Linked DNA regions of Homo sapiens: region 1 is linked to region 2. The links come from fine-mapping of genetic effects on plasma protein levels. Region 2 holds a variant in brackets. A gene starts in the other region. All regions are shown on their reverse strands.

Region 1 (10,073 bases), not on the chromosome of region 2:
CCAACCTACATTTCATGCTCTCCATGAGGGGCAGGTCTGTGGGCAAAATGATGATTGTAGCAATAGACATGCTGAACTGGTGGTGCCTGCAGGAAGTCCAGTGATGACGTCATGGACAGGGGGATGAGGAGCTTCACTGCTGGAAGCCTGGCCTTAGTTGAGATAACTCAAGACAATTGCAATGGGGTCAACACTCTCACAATAAGACAGAGTGAGCTCAAGTCCAAATATAAAAAGAGTAAGTGGGGATTTATAGCCAAGGAGCAGGGTGTGGAGGTTAGTGAAGAAAAAATTACTAAGCAGAGACATCAAAGGTAGGGGTTTCTGGCTGAACTGACCAAACAGGATTCTTGCTAAAGGCAGGACACAGCCTTAGACATCAAAGCTGAGGGATGAGGAACTTGATCAGATGTCAAGGGTGATCAGACCCCAAGGACAGCAGGATTCTCCCTAAAAGGAAGCAGGATTCTTTCCTAAAACTGAGCAATGCAGACCTGGCAGGTAGGAGCTGGAGACCAAGGTTGAGGCCTAGTGAAGAAGGCTCAGAGGAGCCTTAAAGTTTCGTTAGAGAGTCTTTTCACTGGATCCAGCTCCTCTGTGACAGGAGGAGAGGGCAGGCAGGGCCACAAGAGCAGGCAGGCTGTCCTGATGGCCTCTGGCTCCAGCTCCAGCACCCACTGATTGAGTGTAACAGGATTCCAGGCAGGAACAGGAACCACTCTCCACAGCCACTGCAGTCTGCTAAAGGAATTGATATTTAAGGTTAGACAAACAGTGACAGGGAAGTCCCAGCAGTGACCTGAATGGGGATTAGAAAGGAAACTCTCACCACACAGAGATGCCAAGGGGATTGCTCTCCCCTCAGAGCCATCTGTATTCTCCTGGGCCAGGCCCCTGCAGGCTGGGACCAGGGAGTTGGGGGAAGTCCCTGGGTGCATCAGCAAGCAACCCGAGTTCCCAAGGAACTCTCCCTGTCCTCTCCACTCGGCTGTGGTTCTCTAGCCATGGCTCTGCTAGGAAGAATGTACTCCTTGAGAAAATAAATAGTAACCTTGCAATCTAAAATCCTAAGTGCTGTTTACACATTGATCCCTGAGCAGGAAACTTCCCAAGGATTCTCTTTCCCTCCATAAAGGGCCAAACTCTCAGACCTCAGATCCTGGGCTCTGTACGCCCTTTTCCTGTAGGGGCTTTGGGCATGCTTCACAGCAAGTACCAGAGTTCATAATAATGTGGCCTCATCCCCATCAGAGCCCAGATGCTTACCAATGGTGGCCAATGGTCCAGGAGTATCTCAGGTCCCCCACAGTTGGGAGCAGGGAGGGGGAAGGAGGAAGGGTGTGCATAAGGGACAAGCTTGACCCCAGAGAACTCGCAGCACTCCATAAAGGAGGATTCTGGGCTTCCCCTTTGAGAAGCCAACAAATCCCGTGGCTGCTCAGTCCCATCTCCTATCACAGACACTGAATGTTAATTGCTCAAAACCCGGATGTGCAGAATCTCAACTCTTGGCCAACTTGATCTAACCACTTGCACTTTAGGTGATGTTTATGCCCTTAGGTATTTATTGGTTATAATATTGTTTAGTGTTTCCCTTTACTGCTTATTTATTATAGAGAACTTCTGTCACTCACCTAATTTCTCACTCTACTAATTCAATCATGGGATCAAGTTACACACGCAACCTGGGAGAACACGGCTTTCTCTTTCATCCACTGGCAGAAAGGAAACATGCCCCCTCCTGGGCAACTGGACTCCTCCAGATTACGAAGGTGCTGGAGGCCCCAGGCTTGGTCCTGAGTCCATTGTTTATCTCTGGGTCCCTGCCAGCCTGTCATTGGAGCTGTAAGCTATAGGAACTAAGTCTCCATCTTTTTTTGAGATGGGATCTCACTGTGTTGCACAGTGTGGTCTGGAACACCTGGGTTCAAGAGATCCTCCTGCCTCAGCCTCAAGAGTAGGTGTACAGGCATGCCATAACACTGGGCTATTGTAAATTTTAACCACACTTAAATGTCACTGCAGAATCAAACTTATCTTGCTGGTTTTGAACCACCAGACACCACCATTTACAAAGCAGCTCACCTTTCCATATGCATGACACATAGAGAAGGCAAAACATTTTCCCAAGGTCACCCAGCAGCTGGAGCAGCTGTCCATCTACCCTAACCTTCCACTTACCATCACCCATACTGGATGCATCTCTTGTAGTTCCTGAGAGTGCCCTACATGGGGGTCTGACTACAAAGATTAGAGTGGCCACTGTATCAGGCCTGTTGACCCTCCCTATAGCTCATTCCAGTGTCCTGACAGAGGATGACCACTGGCGGTGGCATCACATACAGGGAAATAGGCCAGCACTCCAGCTCCCACCCCATACTCCACCCACCACCATATGCCTGTTATGTGGATGACCTGCATCTCCTTCCTAATGATAAAAGATAGGAGAGATTTGTATGTATTTCAGCTTACCCTCTGCACAACACATCCTCCTGAGAGTTGAGACCTAGCGGCCAGGGAAGGTGGGAGCCACAGAGGAGACCCAACTCCCACACTTGGGAGATGACCATTCTGCCCACAAGCACCTGGCCAGGGACTGCCCTCTCTTTCCCTTCTCTGGGAATCTCCCCCAATTTCCTGTCTAACTAGGAGGCATCACGTGCAGCCCTGCTTGAAGACCTTCCCTCCCTCACCCAGCAGTAAACACTATCCCTGGGCCACCTGCTGTATCTGCTGGAGTGCATGGCTTTTCTAGGGGTGCTGGATTCACAGTGGGGTGCAATGGTCACTGGGCCTTGGGTAAAAAGGTCCCCTGTCCTCATACTGAACATGAGCACCCATGAGTAATATTGTTCCCGCTGTCGGGTTCCTGCTGATGCAGCCCCAGCCATGGCGGAGCCCCAGGATTATAGCAGGTCTGGGCTGATCCTGGCCGACCCTCACCTCCACCACTCCCAGGAGAGTCCTCTGGGTGTCCTGCTAAGGCCCAGGGTTTCCTGGTGTTTCTGGCCAAGCCTGCCACCTCGCCATAAGGGCATTTGCCGCAGGATCACCTTCAGGCATGGAGGGGGGGTTGAGAGAACAAAGGGAGCAGCTGTCTGTTCAGAGCCTCCTTCCACCCTCCCTACTCCTGAAGTCACATTCCAGTCCAGGCCCACAGCATCCCGAGCTGGGGGCTTTGTCAGCCCACAGGGCACCCAACTGACCACATCCTCTCAGTCTGTGGAGAAGGAGAACTCTCAATCCTGGCAATGAAGCCACGCTGAGCAAAGGACGAAGACACACCTGGGCTCTCTCTGCAGGATTCCATTCCTGGGAAGCTCAAGGACAGGCAACAAAGGAGTCCACAGGACCAGATGTGGGCTGCCAGGGTCGGGTGGGCATGAGGGTGGGCTTCAGAGGCAGGAGGAAACCATCTGGGGTGAGGCAGATATCACAGGTGTGGACAAAGTGGTAACACAAGTGTATGCATTTATGAAATCCCCCAGATTGGGCACATACAATTAGGCATTTTATTGTGTGTAAATTCTACCTCATTCAATGTAATTTTTAAAATATTACATGAGTTTTCCAAGCAGTGTACAGAGGACCAGTGCTGGCAGCACGTCTCCCAGAGGGGAGGAGCAAGAGAGGCTCTTGGGCTCCCACATTCATCCTGTGGCTGCTGCTCCTTCTCCTGACACCCCCACCACCTGCCAGGGGTCTCCCTGCGCCTTCCACCTGGACACACCCACAGTTACCGTGAGACTCCAGGTCGTTCCCTTCCCTGCTCACACCCCCTCCAGGAGCTTCCTCTTCCTGGAGCAGGCATGCCCAGCCTTGCCTCAGGGCCTTTGCACTGACTATTCCCTGCTGCCTGGGGCTTCTCAACCTTTCCGGTCTCTTAGAGACTTCCCTGACCAGGGTCCAGTAGCACCCACCCTCTCTCTAACTGAGCGACTATAATTCCCTGATCTAAATTGTTGATCACCACTCTGCATCCTCCCACACACCCTAATGGCTGGGCTATGCAGTACCACAGCCACCAGCAGCCACTCGTGGCCACAGGGCACTTGAAATGGGGCTAGTCCACAGTGACGCTTGGTCTAACTGTAAAAAATACACAGGGAACTTCAAGACATTACACTCACACAAAAGAATGTAAACTAGCTCCTTAAGAATAGTCCTGAAGTGTTGAAGTATTTTGGATATATTAGGTTAAAGTAGAAATACCAAAATTACTTTCAGCTGTATCTTTTAACTTTTTCAAATGTGTTTTAAATTGCTCCTGGGTTTCTGTCACATCTCTGTTGGATGGCAGCTCTGCAAGTTCATGTCTACGGCTCTATTGCCCAGACTGCTTGGTGCAGGGGGAAGCTGGTGACAGGTTTGTTTATTGAATAATGAGGAGTTATGAAACGAGAACCCAGTGAACTTTACCCAAAGGTTAATTACTTTATGTTTGGCAAAGAAGTTCCCCAGAAGAGGGCATGGACAAGGTCATCCCGGAGCTTCTGAAACAGCTCCCTGCCCCAGGAATTCCCAGACCATGACCACGTGCTCCTGGATGCCCCTGACATCTGAAGACTTTAGAAGGCCAAGCCCTGTATTTCTCCCTTTCCTGTGGACATAGGTGGTCACCAGGTTTCACAGCCCAGGGAGCGGTGTCACCTCTCTGGAATCCAGAGTGAGCCAAGCTTTAGAGCACTGAGGAAGAGGGGCAGGGCTGTGGGGAGGTTGCGGTCAGGACAGGAGTGGGGAGGAGGATGAGGAGGAGGCATGGGAGGAGCGAAGGGAACTTAGGGAGGGAGGGAGGTGGTTGGGGGTGGAAAGGGAGATAGAGACAGAAGAGGAGGGGTAGAAAGAGGAGGAGGAGCCAGGGGCGGGGCCAGGGAGCAGGTGGGGTTGGGGGACACCCAAGTAGGATAAATGCACAGCTAGCTTCTGGCCTGGGCTTCCTGCCTCAGCCTTCTGCTGCTTTGCTCTCTGGGAGATCCAGCTCCTTGCTCTGTGTCCCAGTAGAACATGATGTGGCCCATGCACACCCCACTGCTGCTGCTGACTGCCTTGATGGTGGCCGTGGCCGGGAGTGCCTCGGCCCAATCTAGGACCTTGGCAGGTGGCATCCATGCCACAGACCTCAATGACAAGAGTGTGCAGTGTGCCCTGGACTTTGCCATCAGCGAGTACAACAAGGTCATTAATAAGGATGAGTACTACAGCCGCCCTCTGCAGGTGATGGCTGCCTACCAGCAGGTGCGTGCTACCACCACCCTGGGGGTCCTGAGTCCCAGCTGGGTTTTTTGCCTCACCCCCCAGAGCACTCCCAGCAAATCAACATTATCTAAACCGCAGACTCATTCAGCTTTCTCTGACTGTCTGCTGATGGTCTTCATGCCCTAGGACACTCCTTGGCCGTGAGTGCATGAGTTCAGCCCTGTCCTGTCCCCTCGGCCTCTTTTAACCTGCAGCAGCCACTGTGTCTGTACCATGACTGTGGCATTTCCCAGGGTCCAGCAGGTGTGGATGGAGACTGTGCTGACTCTGGGTGGGCTTGATGCTGCTCAGGATGAGATCCAGGCCACGAGGTTCATCTTCCTCCCTGAGTCCTCTCCACAGGGGCCACACGGGAACCTGACTCCTTGTCCTGGATAGCCCCGCTTCCCTCCCAAGTCACGCCCCTGGGCACAGCCCGTTATGGCTAGTGGCCTTCACTCTCAGGCTGGCTGACCACCCCCTACAGCCCAGGACAGCTGAGTTCCTGCTGGGGTAGAGCATGCCTGACCCTGCCTCTGCCAGCTAACGCAGAGTTAGACCTCAGCAAAATGAGGACAGCAATCACCCAGCAGAGTGAAGGAGGTGGTTGGGTCCAGAGGGAGGAAGCTTCAGCAGGGCTACCGAGCCCAGCTTGACCTACGTCCCATGGCAGAGCAGCAGTGACACAGCGACCACAGGGCTATATGGCCTGCCAGCCTTTAGAGCTCCTCCACCTTCTCTTGGAAAGTCAGAGGAGTCCAGACCAGCCCTGTTTCTCCTCCTGCAGCCCTCTCCCTGCACAGGAGGGGCATTCCCTGGTGCTGTGGTCCCTGCTGGCCTGCACTCCCTCTTAAGTGTGTCACTCACTGGGAGTGAAGCACAGAATGATGTAGATCGTTGGGCCCTGGAGCCTATTTTACAGAGCAGCAGACTGACACCGGAGGGATCACAGGACTTCCATGTGGTTCTACAGGACTTGTGTGTGGTTCCACAGGGCAAGGTCTAGCACCCTGGTCCCAGGGTCCCTCATCCCATGCTTCTCCACAGTTCTGACAAGTCATGTTTTGGGGCGGCACTGTGCAGGGAAAGCATTCAGTTCTCTTCTGAAGTTGCAACCCTAAGACATGCAGGTGTGTGACTCACTTTAGAAATATTGCCTTGAAAATCACACCTGGAATGGAGGCATGCAGGAGGCAATGTTTATTGGCCTAAAACATCAATGTATGTGAGCATCTCATCTCCTACTGAGAAATGAGGAAAAATACCTCTGGGTTAAATGGCAGGAATGAGATGCTCTGTGGACTGAATGCCAGGAGCTGGAAGTTAGCTGAAATTTCATCATCAGGTGGCAGCCTTCCTAGGATGGGACCAGTGTCCCTGCCCCCTGAGCACAGGTAGCAGAATTCAGTTAATCCTTTGCTGTGGGAAAGAGCATTCACTTGGTGCTTAGACCCTGCCCTGCAAGCCTGGTGCCAGGACTGTTTCTTTGTCCCACCCTGGCTGGTTCCCCAGAGCTGTGCCTTCTGTTCCTGAATCCAGTGAAGGGGGTTTTAGGCCCTGGCTTCCATCTGCCCTGCCCCTGCTTCTCTTTCTACTGGGCTGCATGAGACAGCTTGCTTGAGATACCCAGAGAAAACAAGTTACTAGGAAGGACTGGGACACACTACCACTGCCAGCCAGCAGGAGAAGGTGGCTTGTGTGCCTTTTGGGTGACAGTGTGGGCATGAAGCCCCAGGCAAGCCCAGTGACTCAGTCACAGTGAAGTGCCTGCGTGTGCATGAAACTGACAGCATGCTGCCCCTGCTTCCTGCTCTTCCACGCGTGTAGATCGTGGGTGGGGTGAACTACTACTTCAATGTGAAGTTCGGTCGAACCACATGCACCAAGTCCCAGCCCAACTTGGACAACTGTCCCTTCAATGACCAGCCAAAACTGAAAGAGGTATGTGCCTGATGTGGGTCAGGGGCATCAAGTACCGCAGAGCAGTGTGTGCATGTGTGTGTGTGTATGTGTGTGTGCACGCATCTGTACTCCTGCACATGCTTTGGAGGGCATGTGTGCATGTGTGCAGATATTTGTGGGGCCACGTATGCAAGGATGTATTCATGTGCATGGGAGGATGCATGTGTGTTTGGCACACATGTGCAGATGTGTATTGTGAAGTCAATGAATGTGTTTGTGCATATGGAGTTTTGTGTATGCATGAATGAATGTGTGGGATGGTGTACACATGTGGCTATGCATGTAGAAAGATGCATATGTGTGCATACATGAGGAAGATGCACAGGAGTGTGTGTGTGCATGTGTGTGGATGTGTGAAGGAGTATGTGGGTTCATGCATATATTCGTTTGGGTGAGGGTTGCTGTGAGTTAATATAGATGCCTATGTGTGTGCAGATGGAGTGGTGTGGATAGGGGTGATGAATTTGTTTTGCTAGGAAGACTTTAGCTTGGTAATGGTTACTGGGAGGTCAACTCTGCCTGCTTTGGGGTGTTGTCTGTTGGACTGGAGGAAGAAGCTGCTGGGCTGGGTTCTGGTCAGAAAGAAGGGGCTCTGTCTAACCCCAGCCTCAGGCACCTGCCTGCAGCCACAGCCACTCTGAGCACATTAGAAGGAATTAAATGCCTGTTAGCTGAGAAGCCCTGGACCTGCCCCAGCTCACCCAACATCAGCCTCTCCAAGAACCCAGGATTTCTTTCGAGGTCTCTGCTCAAGGCAGAGCCACACTCTCCTTGTCATCTCCTCACCACCTCGGGCACTTTGAGTTGCAATTTCCAGTTCCCTGGGTTCTTCCCTCTGGCCCCTCTTAGTGCTGGCCTGGGTGCTGGAGGTGGAAGGAGCTGGAGGCAGTGAGCTGCCTCCCCTGTCCTGCACCCCTGAGGCTCCCAAGGCCTTGCACAGGCTGCTCCTCATAGGGCTGCGCTGGGACAGGAATCCTGCAGGCTGGGGTGAAGGCCCAATGTCACCTGGTGACTTGGAGCCTTGGGAGGGGCAATGGAACAGTCACTGCCCAGTTGGGCTCAGTGCCCTGGAACTCGGCAGGGGTAGGTTGGGGTCAGGGGGCAGTGTCTCATCTCCAACCATTTTCACCCCCATTCTGATGTCCCATTCCTGGGCATCTTTGGCTTTAACTGTAACCCACAGTCATTTTCTCCATCTCTTTCTTTTCACAGGAAGAGTTCTGCTCTTTCCAGATCAATGAAGTTCCCTGGGAGGATAAAATTTCCATTCTGAACTACAAGTGCCGGAAAGTCTAGGGGTCTGTGCAAGGCCTGTCACACTGACCACCTCCTACTCCCACCCCCTGTAGTGCTCCCACCCCTGGACTGGTGGCCCCCACCCTGGGGGAGGTCTCCTCATGCGCCTGCACCAGGAGACAGACACAGAAGGTGGCAGGAGGCCTTTGTTGCTCAGCAGGAGGCTCTGCCCTTGCTCCTTCCTTCTTGCTTCTCATAGCCCCAGTGTGCAGTGCACACTCTCCCACCTCCTGCAATTAAACAGTAGCATTGCCTCCCTCTGAGTTCTTGGCTGTTTGGGGATGTACACACAGGCAGGGTTTCTGCAGTTCCTTTATGAAGCCTCCTTGTTCTGCTGGCCCCAGAAGTTGGGCTGCTGGTTTGGTCTGAGCTCCTGGTCAGACCAGGAGGAGGGGGCTGGCTGTGTCCACAGGCAGGGGCCAGGCCTCAGTGGAGCTCGCCAGGCCGTGGATTCCATCTGTGCTTGCAGAGTTGAGCAGACTCCAGGGACTGAGCTGCTCTCATCAAATCCCCTAGACACTAAATAAATAGCGATCGATGTCTGCTTCTTTCCACAAGAGACTTTAGGCCCTTACATGGAAACAAGTCCAAAAGTGTGTATGTGTATGTGTAACTGATTGGGAGAAATGCCAGCCAGACCAAAGATGGGCAAGATCTCACAGAGAAAACAGTGCCTGCTGTCATCTATCCTGGGAAGGTGTGCCCCAGGGTGGGAGGTTTTGTCAATTCACACCCACCGGCCCATTCTCTGGACTTGAAGTTTTAAAAAGTCCTCATGTCAAACTTTATATTAGGGTTAGAGAAGTTAAAACACAAATGGGACTGGCATGAAGTGGACTGTTTTTTTCCAAGGATGATGTTCCAATTAATAAAAAAAACTTAGTGTCATCATGATTCATAGAATAGTAGATATTTGTGCCTCAAGCAGGAGGCTACACTCCTAAGTCACATGGCCCCAAGCCCACACGGTCCTTCTCTTTGCTATTTTAGTTCAAAGAGAAGGGGGTGCAGCCCTCAGGACAGGTGCCTCTGGCCCAAGGCTCTGAAATGTCTTCCTCACTCAGAGCTGCATTGACCAAGGGTGGCTGCCATGAACACTGAGAGGGAAATGACAAAGAGGAAGCTGCTGAAACAGCCCTGAGGCCAGCACCCACCGTGCTGCACCTAGGAAGCCAGGAGGAGAATGGTCTGGCAGGGAGAGTGAGCAGCATCTGCTTCCATTTCCTCTCCACCCCCATGGGATTTAACTGAGTCTGTGATGTGGGAAGTGTAGCAGCGCCCAGGCAGCCATGAGCGGGGGAGTCAAATCTGGGCCTCATCCTCTCAGTGGAGGGTGCACTTAGTGATTCAGGCTTCTACTGGGAGAGAGCGGCTGAGGGCAGAGCAGCAGGTGCACAGATGTTGTGGTTGGGGGCAAAGTCTTTCTTGCACGGAAGTGCTCATAATTTTCCATGTGGATGAAGGGTTTATTGACCAAAGGGACCACCATCCAGGCACACAATGAACAGCTGATTTTTTGAAAAACAGTCCCTTTCTGACACAATTCTATCTTCCTTGGGGAAGATGGTGTGACGTCGGGG
Region 2 (10,073 bases):
AAGCCAGGCTATGACAAGATTGATCTGGTTACTGCAGGAGAGCCAGCCTGGCAGTGTAACAAGGAAGGCTGGGGCTGGTTGCCTGTGGGAAGCCTTTGCAGTGTGACATGGCGAGGGCCTAACCCATGGAAGCATGGGAGTCCATGACCCACTAAGGGCAAAGGATAGACCAAGCTGGCTCTGAGATGTTGAGCCTTGGAGGAGCGGGGCCCAGGTGTTCTCTGATGAGGCATTCCACCATCAAGCTGTAATCTAGGCCATAACACATCCTCTAATTGCAATATTGCAAAAAATATATGGACTGTATGTGAACCCTGAAATTTACAAACTGTTAAAAATTTATGACCTATTTGGAAAAATTTGAATTCTAATTGGATTCGGTAATCTTAAGGTATTAATTCTTAACTCTCTAGGTGTGGTCATGGTACTGTGGTTTTAAGAGCCCTTATGTTTTAGAGAAACATATGAAATATATACAGATGAAATATATCTGGATTTGTTTCCAGTTATCCAGGTAGATAAGGGGAGAATGGGCTTAGCATAGATGAGGCAGGACTGTTTCTGAATTGTAAACTGTCCAAGCTGGGTGACATGGGGTTCATTCCACTCCTCTCTCTACATTGTATACATTTGAAATTTTCTGTAAAAACATTCTGGTCCTTGGATAATGCAGGTCCTACACCCTGGGCCTCAAAATTCCCAATCAGAAATCACGAGAGGCATTTTGAGCTGTGCCATGTTAATCTCTTGTTACCTTTCGAAACAGGAATTCTGACCACTTCTGTTTTGCCTAGAGCAGGAAAAACACATAGACAGGAAAGAAATAATGCCTTGGCTTTATTTAGAAAAACAAACTGTGAAAGACACGTGATCCTCCTGTATCACGATCATGGGAGGAGTCCAACCAACTGGAGAGGCGAAGTCAAAACTCAGAAGAGCAAAGGCAAAGTTTTAGCTGGAAATAAATGCTTCTTTTAGGAGAGTCACTCCCAGTGGAGGATTTCTGGCAGTGGAGCACTTGGCATGAGTGTGAAAGCTGACACTGAGTTGGAAAATGGTAGCCCAGGGTGTAGCGGCCAGCATAAGGCCAGCACTGTGCAGTCACATGTCACAGCTCAGGGAACAGAAAGGCCTGCTGTTGTCACCTCTGATATTGGTTGTCCCGGTGCCCACCCTCATGGCACCTCTATCTCTCACATGCCACAAAGACAGGAGGCTGCTCTGACAGTGTCCCCAGCTATGCAAGGCGGGGACACCCACTAGCCATTACATGCTGGGGGAGGGCCCTATGAACTTCCTTGGCAGGCCGTCTCCCAGGCTACAGGGCAGAAATCAGATTTCTTTTTCAATTAGTGCCCCCAAACAGAAACCATTTGCACACAGGTAAGCTAGAAAGCTAGGAGGGTACATTTTGAACCTGAGCAAGTGATCTCATTTTTCCTCCTCTTTTTTGAGGAGAAGAAATACATGAGGGAATTAAGGTGGGTGCACGTTCCCTGGGAAAGGAACAAGCATGAAACAGGTGTTGAGAGTTCAGCTTAGTAAACATGTGAGGGCCCACTCTGTGCCAGGCACTGTGGGAAGTGCAGCGATGGATGAGCCGTGGTCCTTGTCTTCAAGGACAGCGTGGGGAAGCCAGGAAATTCCAGGTGCACAAAATCTCCTGGATAAATACTGAAGGACACATAAGTCCTGTGACCCAAGCAAAGTAACTGTTACTTAGCCAAAGTCAAACTTCCGGCAAATCTCTTAAATCTCTATTTTTCACCCATAAAATGGTGCAATTCTGCCTTGCTTACCCCGTAAGGTTATAGAGTTATAAGGATCAAAGCTACTACAATATAATAACAATGAGGAGGAGGAGGAGGAGGCGAAGACAAGGCTTTCTTGACCTTGCTGACCTACAGACCTGTGACTGGTGCCCAAGGACGAACTCCGCTGTGGATGGCAGCCAGGACCAGGGCAGGTTCCTGATGCAGATGGCTGTCTGATCCCAGCCAGTCCTGGAGCACCGGTGCCCTGTGCCCTCATTCCCGAAGCTGGTTCCCCTGGGCACCTTGTCACATGCCCAGTAGCTGCCTTGACATGAGCAACCTTTCTGACTCATTCAAATTTGCCTGACAGATGGAGAAGGTGCTTAGTCCTAGTATTCTTAATAAATATCAGAGCTTAAGAGCCAGAAGGAACCTTCCAGAACATAGCTTCCACACACATCCCATCCCCACCACTACGCCCACCACCCCCACCATTTGCACGAAGGGCAATGGAGGCTCCAGCAGGGAACATAACCCACTGAAGTGTTGGGACAGCTGATGCTGGAATCTCATTCTCTGGACTCCCCTGGTCCAACATAGCTGCTTCTCTTTCCAAGACAGGTTTTGCCAACACCAACTCTACTGCCTTTAATATCCTTAGTCTTTCCTGCCCCCCAAATACCTTATTTGGTCCTAACTTCCAATAAAGCGTATTTAGAGCAAGAGAAAAAGGAAACATTCCCCAAGTCACATTTTCCCAAGCCCTCTGTTCTTTTTCACTCTTTGGGAAAATGTTTCCTAAATGCCCATGGGGGCACGTGACCCTACTTATAATATGGGTTCACAGAGACGAAGATGAGGGGTCCCTATCTTCACGAGGCTCTCGTTTAGCTATCAGTAAAATGCCCTCTTGATGAAACCTTTTTGAACCTCCACTGTGGGAAAAGAAAACCCTTCTAATCCAGTTCCCTTTAGTCATGTGTGCAAAGAGAAAGCTTCTCAATGATGCATCTCTTTACTTCCTGAGTTTTTTGCATTCATGCCTGGCTGGCAGCTTCCGCCCTGCTGGCTGTGGGCCCAGGCAGTATTGTGAGCACAGAAAAGGCTGGCAGCCTCACTTAGGGAGTCTTACCCTGTGCTGTGTCTCTTCCTGACCCTGGGGTTCTACATGAGGCCTCACGGTTGCTTCATTCTGCTCCCCGCTGCCCCTAAAGCATTCGGTTTGGCCCCCAGCTGAATAATTGTCTTACTCCAGTTTGGCCCTGGAGTGCCTGCTTTGATATCCTCCAGCCTCCCTCTTCCCTAGTCACCATCTTGGTGTAGTTGAGTTATTTTGAGGCCTTGAAAATAAGAATAGTAGAGCTCAGCGGAGACTCTGCCATGCCCAAGTGAGAAGACTGGTGTCCAGTGAAAGGTTGGACTGGAGATTCTGCAATTCCGTCATGCTGTAACATTTCTGAAAATGCATAGCCTAAGGTTGACAGCCTGAAAAATCAGTAGGGTTCCGATGTGTGTGTCCGGACCTAGAAGTAAGAACTAACTAAGCCTGGGACCAACGCCTCATAGCATTTGAAATGAACCTGGGTACCAAGTATCACTTCGGATTCTTCCCACTCTCAGATACGGTCCCCTAGTTAGAGAGCACGATGTAGGGGGTTGGGATTCTGTGGGGCCAATATAACATTTACACCCTTGTGAAACAGTGCAGGGGTCTACAGAAGAATTCCCAGAAGAGGTGGTGTTCCTTTCCCCTTTTCTCTATTTACCCACCTTCCTTGTGTTGAAATACTGATGAACGGACCCCCAGATGGCAAAGCTTGATCCCCAGCTCTGATAGAGCCCACAGGACACCCTGGGTCTACCCTAACGAGCCATGACATGCCAATTCTTTGCTTTTCTGGAGAAACCTTGGCCTGAAAGTCTGTTTAATTACCGTGGAGATAATCTTTTAAACATAGATTTACATTCTTTAAAGACTTTTTCCCTGTGGGAGTAGGAAAGTTCATCTGCACATAGCATGTTTATTTTCATTTCCAGGGGAGGAACTGCTATCTGGTAGTTAGCAAGAAGCTTGAGCCCTGGAGGAATTTCTTTTTTTAAAGTCTGTTCCTCTTCACTGATAGTGTGTCAATTATATTGTAATAATTAGTTTATAGTGTGGTCATATTTTTTTCCAGCTTAAACTCTGCACTTC[A/C]CTCTGTGATTCCAGGCCTATAATTATTTAACATTTGTCAATCATCCCTATCAGATTGGGTTCTATAGTTACTCTAAATGTGGGTATCAAGAGTCAATGTCCTCAGGGGTTTCTCTTCAGGAAGGTCATACTTGCAAAGCCAGCAGCCACAAAGACCTATTTAGGTTGGTGCAAAAGCAGTTGTGGTTTTTGCCTGAAAGGAATGGCAAAAACCGCAATTATTTTTGCACCAAGATAATACTTGGCACTGTGGTCAGTAAGACACTAATTTTTCCCACCTGGGGTGGCCCCGCAGATTTGCTAAATTCTTCCCCGCTAGAATGCCAGCTTGGATGAGCAGGGGCTCTATTGTATTCAACCTGGCAGCCCCAAGACCCAGAGTAATTCCTGGCTCATAATAGGTACTGGCTAAGCAGATGCTGAATTGCTGAAAGTCAACAGGTCTTGACGTGTGTGTCAAACAGGAACAATGTACAAAATAAAGCAGAGTTCGGTGGCCTTCTGGCTCTGGCCTGTGCAGCCCTAGTCCTTCTTTCCCCACATCACTTAAGAGCAGGTGGTCCTGAGTGGTTGCTGGACCTGATTCTGGAGGCCAAGACTCTGAGCCTTGAAGATTTACCTCCGGGGATTCAGAAAAGAGGAGAAAAGGAGTAATTGTATTGAACAGAGAATTAGAAGATAAGGAAAATCCCTTTGTGAGAAACTCTAAATCTTGAGCATGGATCTCTGTGTCCAGGTCCTGATGGGGAGAATAGCTGGTCCAAGAAGTACCCGTCGTGTGGGGGCCTGCTGCAGTCCCCCATAGACCTGCACAGTGACATCCTCCAGTATGACGCCAGCCTCACGCCCCTCGAGTTCCAAGGCTACAATCTGTCTGCCAACAAGCAGTTTCTCCTGACCAACAATGGCCATTCAGGTGAGGGAGAGGCCTTGGAGACCTGAGGGGTATGTCTGAGTCTCCCTCAGCTGCCAGGCCTGTCCTTTTCCATCTGGCAGGGAGGTGTTCCGTGGAAGCATCCAGGAGGAGGGGTGGGGCGGGGCGGGGGTGTCTTTGAGAGATTCCAGGAGCACTCTCTCCAGGGGATGCTGGAGGCTCTGGGCTCTGAGGATCCTGCCAGGGCCGCACTTCCCAGAAGAAGCACATCTCTCAGGATGGGGCAGGAGACCGGCCTGAGCACTGTAGTTCATTGGCTGTGCAGCTGGAGTGAATTCTGGACCATAAACGATTCAAGGAACCACACAGTTTGGCGGGGGGTGCCCAGGCTTTGGAGTCAGACCAACCTGGATTTGAACTCTGGCTTGACTGCTTACGAGCCATGAGAATCTAGGTGAGAATTTTAGTCTCCTTGAGCTTCCATCTGGAAATGGACATATTGATGGATACCGTGAAGACTGGAGATTATGTACGTTGGGGTCTGGCATACAGAGTGAAGTAAATGCTTCATAAATAGCAGTTATCGTTGCTGTTGCTATATAATTCTAAAGCTTGGAAGGTACTTCACTAAAGGTGTCTGATCCATCAATATGTAAATAAACACCCATCCGTTGGTCTAGTGTTAGCGTTTCTGGCATCACTTTCCAAGGTGAACCAAGAAGGTGCTGGTGCCACTGGAGTTGCTTTGGGGAAAAGGGAACATTCTCAGGGAAAGAGCCCAGGTGTCTGACCTTTAGGCTGCATCTCTGCTCCGCACCTCACTCCATCCACCTGCCTCTCTCTGGGCTCCAGGGGGTGGCAGCAGGGGTGGAGGGAGCATTGCCTACCTGACTGCTCTCTGGCAGTGCACAGCTGGCCGGGGCTCTGAAGGCTGCTCCTCCACTCCCCGCAGTGAAGCTGAACCTGCCCTCGGACATGCACATCCAGGGCCTCCAGTCTCGCTACAGTGCCACGCAGCTGCACCTGCACTGGGGGAACCCGAATGACCCGCACGGCTCTGAGCACACCGTCAGCGGACAGCACTTCGCCGCCGAGGTAAGTAGGGCTGCCAGTCTGGCAGAGGCTGCTCTGCAGTGGGTGGTGTGGCACCTTCTCGACCTGGCTGCTGTGCAGATAACACCAGAGCATGGGACAGGCTGCCTTCAGGCTCTCTGCCCCACCTCTGGCCCTGGCACAAGGGGCGCAGCCACTCCACTAGCCTGTAGCTCATCTGCACTGTCCTGGTCCCTTTCTTCTCCTGAACATGCTAAGTTTGTCCCTGTGTCTTTTACTGAGTGATGCTGCTGGGGAGGCAGTATTCCCAGGGTGGCCCAGTGGGACATACATGCCCTTCTTTTAGACATTGCCTTCCTATCTGTGCAGATAAAAATCTCCTGCTGACTCACACTGGGCTCACTGCTCCCCCAAACTTCTCAGCCTTTCTTCATATGTCATGCTGTTTGCATCATTTTGATGCTATCTTTCCCTCTCTGGGCATGGGTTGTGTTTAGAACATGGGGACATGGGTCTAGGGCCACCCTTCTACCTGGCCACAAGTCTAGGGGTACCTGGCAGTCTAATGTGCAGGGCATCACGGCAAGCAGACTCACTAGGGACAAGATGTCAGCCAGCACAGCATCGTGTCATGTTGCCTTGAGAAGCTACTCCGAAATGCCAAAAGAAAATTAGAAGACGGGCAGAGCATTTGTCCTATGCAATTGCAGGATGGGGTGGGGCAAGGAGGGGGTTGAGATGCTCCATTTTGGCACTCCAATAGCCCTGAACTGGGGGTGTGGCTCTGAATATTTACAGGGAAATACAAGCAGATAAATGCTGCTGACTGATCAGCCAGGGGAGTCCGTGGTAAATAGAGACCATTCCCCTCCAGTCATAACTGCTGAACTGCTTAATGTTTCAGACTAATCATAGGTCTACTTGCAAGCATGGAAGGGATAGGATCTGGTTCAATAGGATGGTACCACTGGAGGTTCACATATTTCAGAGCGGCCCTTCCCTGAAGCTCAAGAACTGAAATTTCCTCCAGGCTAATTGCAGTGTTGAGACTTCTGCTTCCCCCATGGGGAATAAAGAAGGTGTAAACCAAAAAGTGTCTGAGACTCAATCCATTTAGAAGTTTATTTTGCCAAGGTTAAGGACACATGCCCGGGAGACAGGGAGACAAGTCTGTGCCTTTCTACAAAGATGATTTTGAGGGCTTCAATATTTAAAGGGGAAAGGGCAGACACTGGGGAAAGAGGGAGAAATGTTTAAAAGGTGTGGGGAGGTAAGAGGCAAGAGGTCGCATTCTTCTGAGTTTTTGATCAGCCGTTCACATGTGAGAGAGGGGTAGAGGAATAGTCACTTGTGCATTCATCTAGCTCAGCGAATCTGCATTCTTACAAAATAAAACAGACATGGGCAGAGGAAGCAATTAGAAATGCATTTGTCTCAGGTGAGCAGAGGGATGACTTTGAGTTCTATCCTTTGTCCTGAACCCATGAAGATAAGTTATCCATTTACATTGTCACGGTGAAATTCAACAGAACTGTTTTAGGGTAAAGACCTTGCGGCCCACAGTGAATTTCCTAGTGGGCAAAATGTGAGGTGTGTTGCTTTTTTATCTTTGTAGCCGTCTTATTTAGGAATAGAATGGGAGGCAGCTCCCAGCTTGACTTTTCTCTTTGGCTTAGTGATTTGGGGGTCTCGAGATTTATTTTCCTTTCACAAAGGAGGTTAGGGTGTAGATTGGCAGGGTTTATGTGTTTTAAAATATTTCTACTTCTTGTATTTTCTGCTATTAAGTCACAGCATCAGACCAAGAGTCTGGTTAAGATGGACCATAAATGCCAATACTAGAGAAAAGGCATCAGGGTGTCCCTAAAGTGGGTCCTCTAAGGAAGGACCTTGGAAGTGTAGTGGTTCTTTGGGATGGAGTTCATATAAGAAGATTCTGGTGGGGCATGTTGGCTCACACCTATAATCCCAGCACTTTGGGAGGCTGAGACGGGTGGATCACCGGAGGTCAGGAGTTCGAGACCAGCCTGACCAACATGGTGAAACCCCATCTCTACTAAAAATGCAAAATTAGCCGGGCTTGGTGGCACATGCCTGTAATCCTAGCTACTCGGGAGGCTGAGGCAGGGGAATCGCTTGAACCTGGGAGGCGGAGGTTGCGGTGAGCCAAGATCACGCCATTGCACTCCAGCCTGGGCAACAAGAGCGAAACTCCATTAAAAAAAAAAAAAAAAAAAAAGATTCTTTCTATCTTAATCTCCTCAACAGGGAGCTCCTTTATGCTTGGATTAGTCTTCACTTCCTCTGAGCACAATAAGAAAAGTACAGACAAACCACAAGCTCAAAGGTCAGCTGTAAAAGGAAATAGGGGCTTAGGACCTCAGGGGTTTTAATCATATAGAATTCAGCTCTGTTTCTCAAAGTGATGCCAGGCCGAGATGGTGTGGGCAGTGTGGCAGACTAAGTCCTTTGAGGGGAAGATGGTGAAGTAGGAGCTCTGAAGAAATCCTTAATAGAGGACCACTTAAAAGAAGAAATAATTTGATATATAATTTTTTTTAAGTTAGAAGGAGCCACTTAAAGTTCGAAATGGGAAAATTAAGCTGTATTCAATAACATATGTTGAACTGTATTTATAAACACATGAGATGGAAAAGGATGAATGAAAAGAGAAAAGAAATAGAGTTAAAATCTCAATATGTCATAGTCTCAAGGACAAAGAACCAGCAAAAATGCATGGGTTGTGTAAACCAAAAATAAATTCTAAGCCCCCCACCCCACCCACCTGCCATCTGAATGGACCTCTCCTCTTGACCAAGGGCATTCCAAAGTTAACATGAAAACTAGTTCAGGCCATGATGGGAAGAGGGAGTTGGACATGACCCATTATACCCTCCTCCCTTTTGGAATTTAGGAAAAGCCCACATTCATTAACATCAACACAGACCTTAGGTCTGATCAGAAATATTTACAGTCTATTCTCTCTGAAGCCTGCTACTTGTATTCTTCCTCTGCATGATAAAATCTTGGTCTCTACAACCCCTTATTGGAACCCAGACATTCCTTTCTATTGATGATAACTCTCAACCGATTGCCAGTCAGAAAAAAGTTAAATCTACCTATGTCCTGGAAGCCTCCAATTTGAGTTTTCCTGCCCTTCCAGATCAAACCAGTGTATCTTGTACGTATTGATTGATGTATTATGTCTCTAAAATGTATCAAAACAAGCCATGCCCTGACCACCTTGGGCACATGTCCTTATCCTTGGCAAAATAAGGGGAGGGTCTGAGAGACCTAACCTAGTCTGGGGGGCTGAGGGGGCTGGGGTTCTGTCCTCACAGTTGGAGTCAAGTCTTCTGCAGAAGCGACAGGCTCCCATGAGTCGCTTATCTCCTAATGGGTGGCTTCTCCCCCACTGCAGCTGCACATTGTCCATTATAACTCAGACCTTTATCCTGACGCCAGCACTGCCAGCAACAAGTCAGAAGGCCTCGCTGTCCTGGCTGTTCTCATTGAGGTAAGAGATATTTAAAAGGTTCTTAGGTGAAATTTGAAGCAGGGATGAGATTGGGATTCCACCTTTTGTTCCATGCATACCTGTTGATAATCAGCTGTTCCTGTATCGACTCCGTGTCAACTCCAGAGCAGGGGGTATCCTCCTGTAGTGCACCTTCTCTCTTGGCCTGGAGGCAGCACTTTCTGTGCCTGGGCAGCAGAAATGGGGAATGTTCTTTGGTCCGTTGGAAAAACGGGCCCCAACATCTAGCCCTGTTGCATAAGGCATGGAATTGCCCAGTTGGGGAGGACCTGTGCTGGAAAGGGATCATCAAACTCCATCTGCCCCATCAGATGCCTGAACTCTTGATACAACTCCTGCCATCCAAGCTCCTCTAGATCCAAGGGACCTCTAGATCAGTGGTCCCCAACCTTTTTGGCACCAGGGACCAGTTTCATAGAAGACAATTTTTCCACGGACCATGGACCAGGGAGGGAGATGGTTTTGGGATGAAACTGTTCCACCTCAGATCATCAAGCATTAGTTAGATTCCGTAAGGAATACACAGCCTAGATCCCTTGCATGCGCAGTTCACAATAGGGCTTGTGCTCCTATGAGAATGGGAGGCCTCTGCTGATTTGACAGGGGGCGGAGCTCAGGCTGTAATGCTTGCTTGCCCGCTGCTCACCTCCTGCTGTGCGG

Direction of the effects. Alleles are on the strand shown, and positions count from the first base shown. The strength of an association depends on the size of the effect and on how common the allele is.
With allele A in place of C in region 2, the plasma level of the protein whose gene starts at base 4,933 in region 1 is higher (weak association).

What was found. A credible set is the group of variants that fine-mapping cannot tell apart. PIP is the chance, under the fine-mapping model, that this variant and not a neighbour inherited with it causes the effect. The UK Biobank Pharma Proteomics Project read protein levels with antibody pairs (Olink). The fine-mapping took linkage between variants from a reference panel, not from the people measured, so its PIPs are less certain.
Region 1: it holds the start of CST5, and the variant in region 2 is the best candidate, but not a certain one, in a credible set for the plasma level of the CST5 protein (UK Biobank, PIP 0.52).

Annotation. Positions count from the first base shown.
Region 1 is chr20:23,874,608-23,884,680 of GRCh38, reverse strand. It overlaps CST5 (cystatin D), which reads left to right and starts at 4,933. Exons shown (of 3, transcript NM_001900.5): 1 at 4,933-5,235; 2 at 7,063-7,176; 3 at 8,410-8,747. The coding sequence starts at 5,005. The coding sequence ends at 8,493. RefSeq lists an enhancer at 4,611-5,440.
Region 2 is chr15:63,341,321-63,351,393 of GRCh38, reverse strand. It overlaps CA12 (carbonic anhydrase 12), which reads left to right. Exons shown (of 11, transcript NM_001218.5): 3 at 4,685-4,864; 4 at 5,775-5,917; 5 at 9,297-9,392. LOC124903506 (a long non-coding RNA gene) reads right to left here. Exons shown (of 3, transcript XR_007064676.1): 2 at 9,473-9,580; 3 at 6,984-7,256. Among named protein-coding and RNA genes, the nearest start is that of CA12, 35 kb to the left of the region's middle. RefSeq lists a cis regulatory region at 4,956, an enhancer at 4,872-5,041 and a silencer at 5,797-5,984. The variant A/C (reference allele first, on the strand shown) is at 3,949.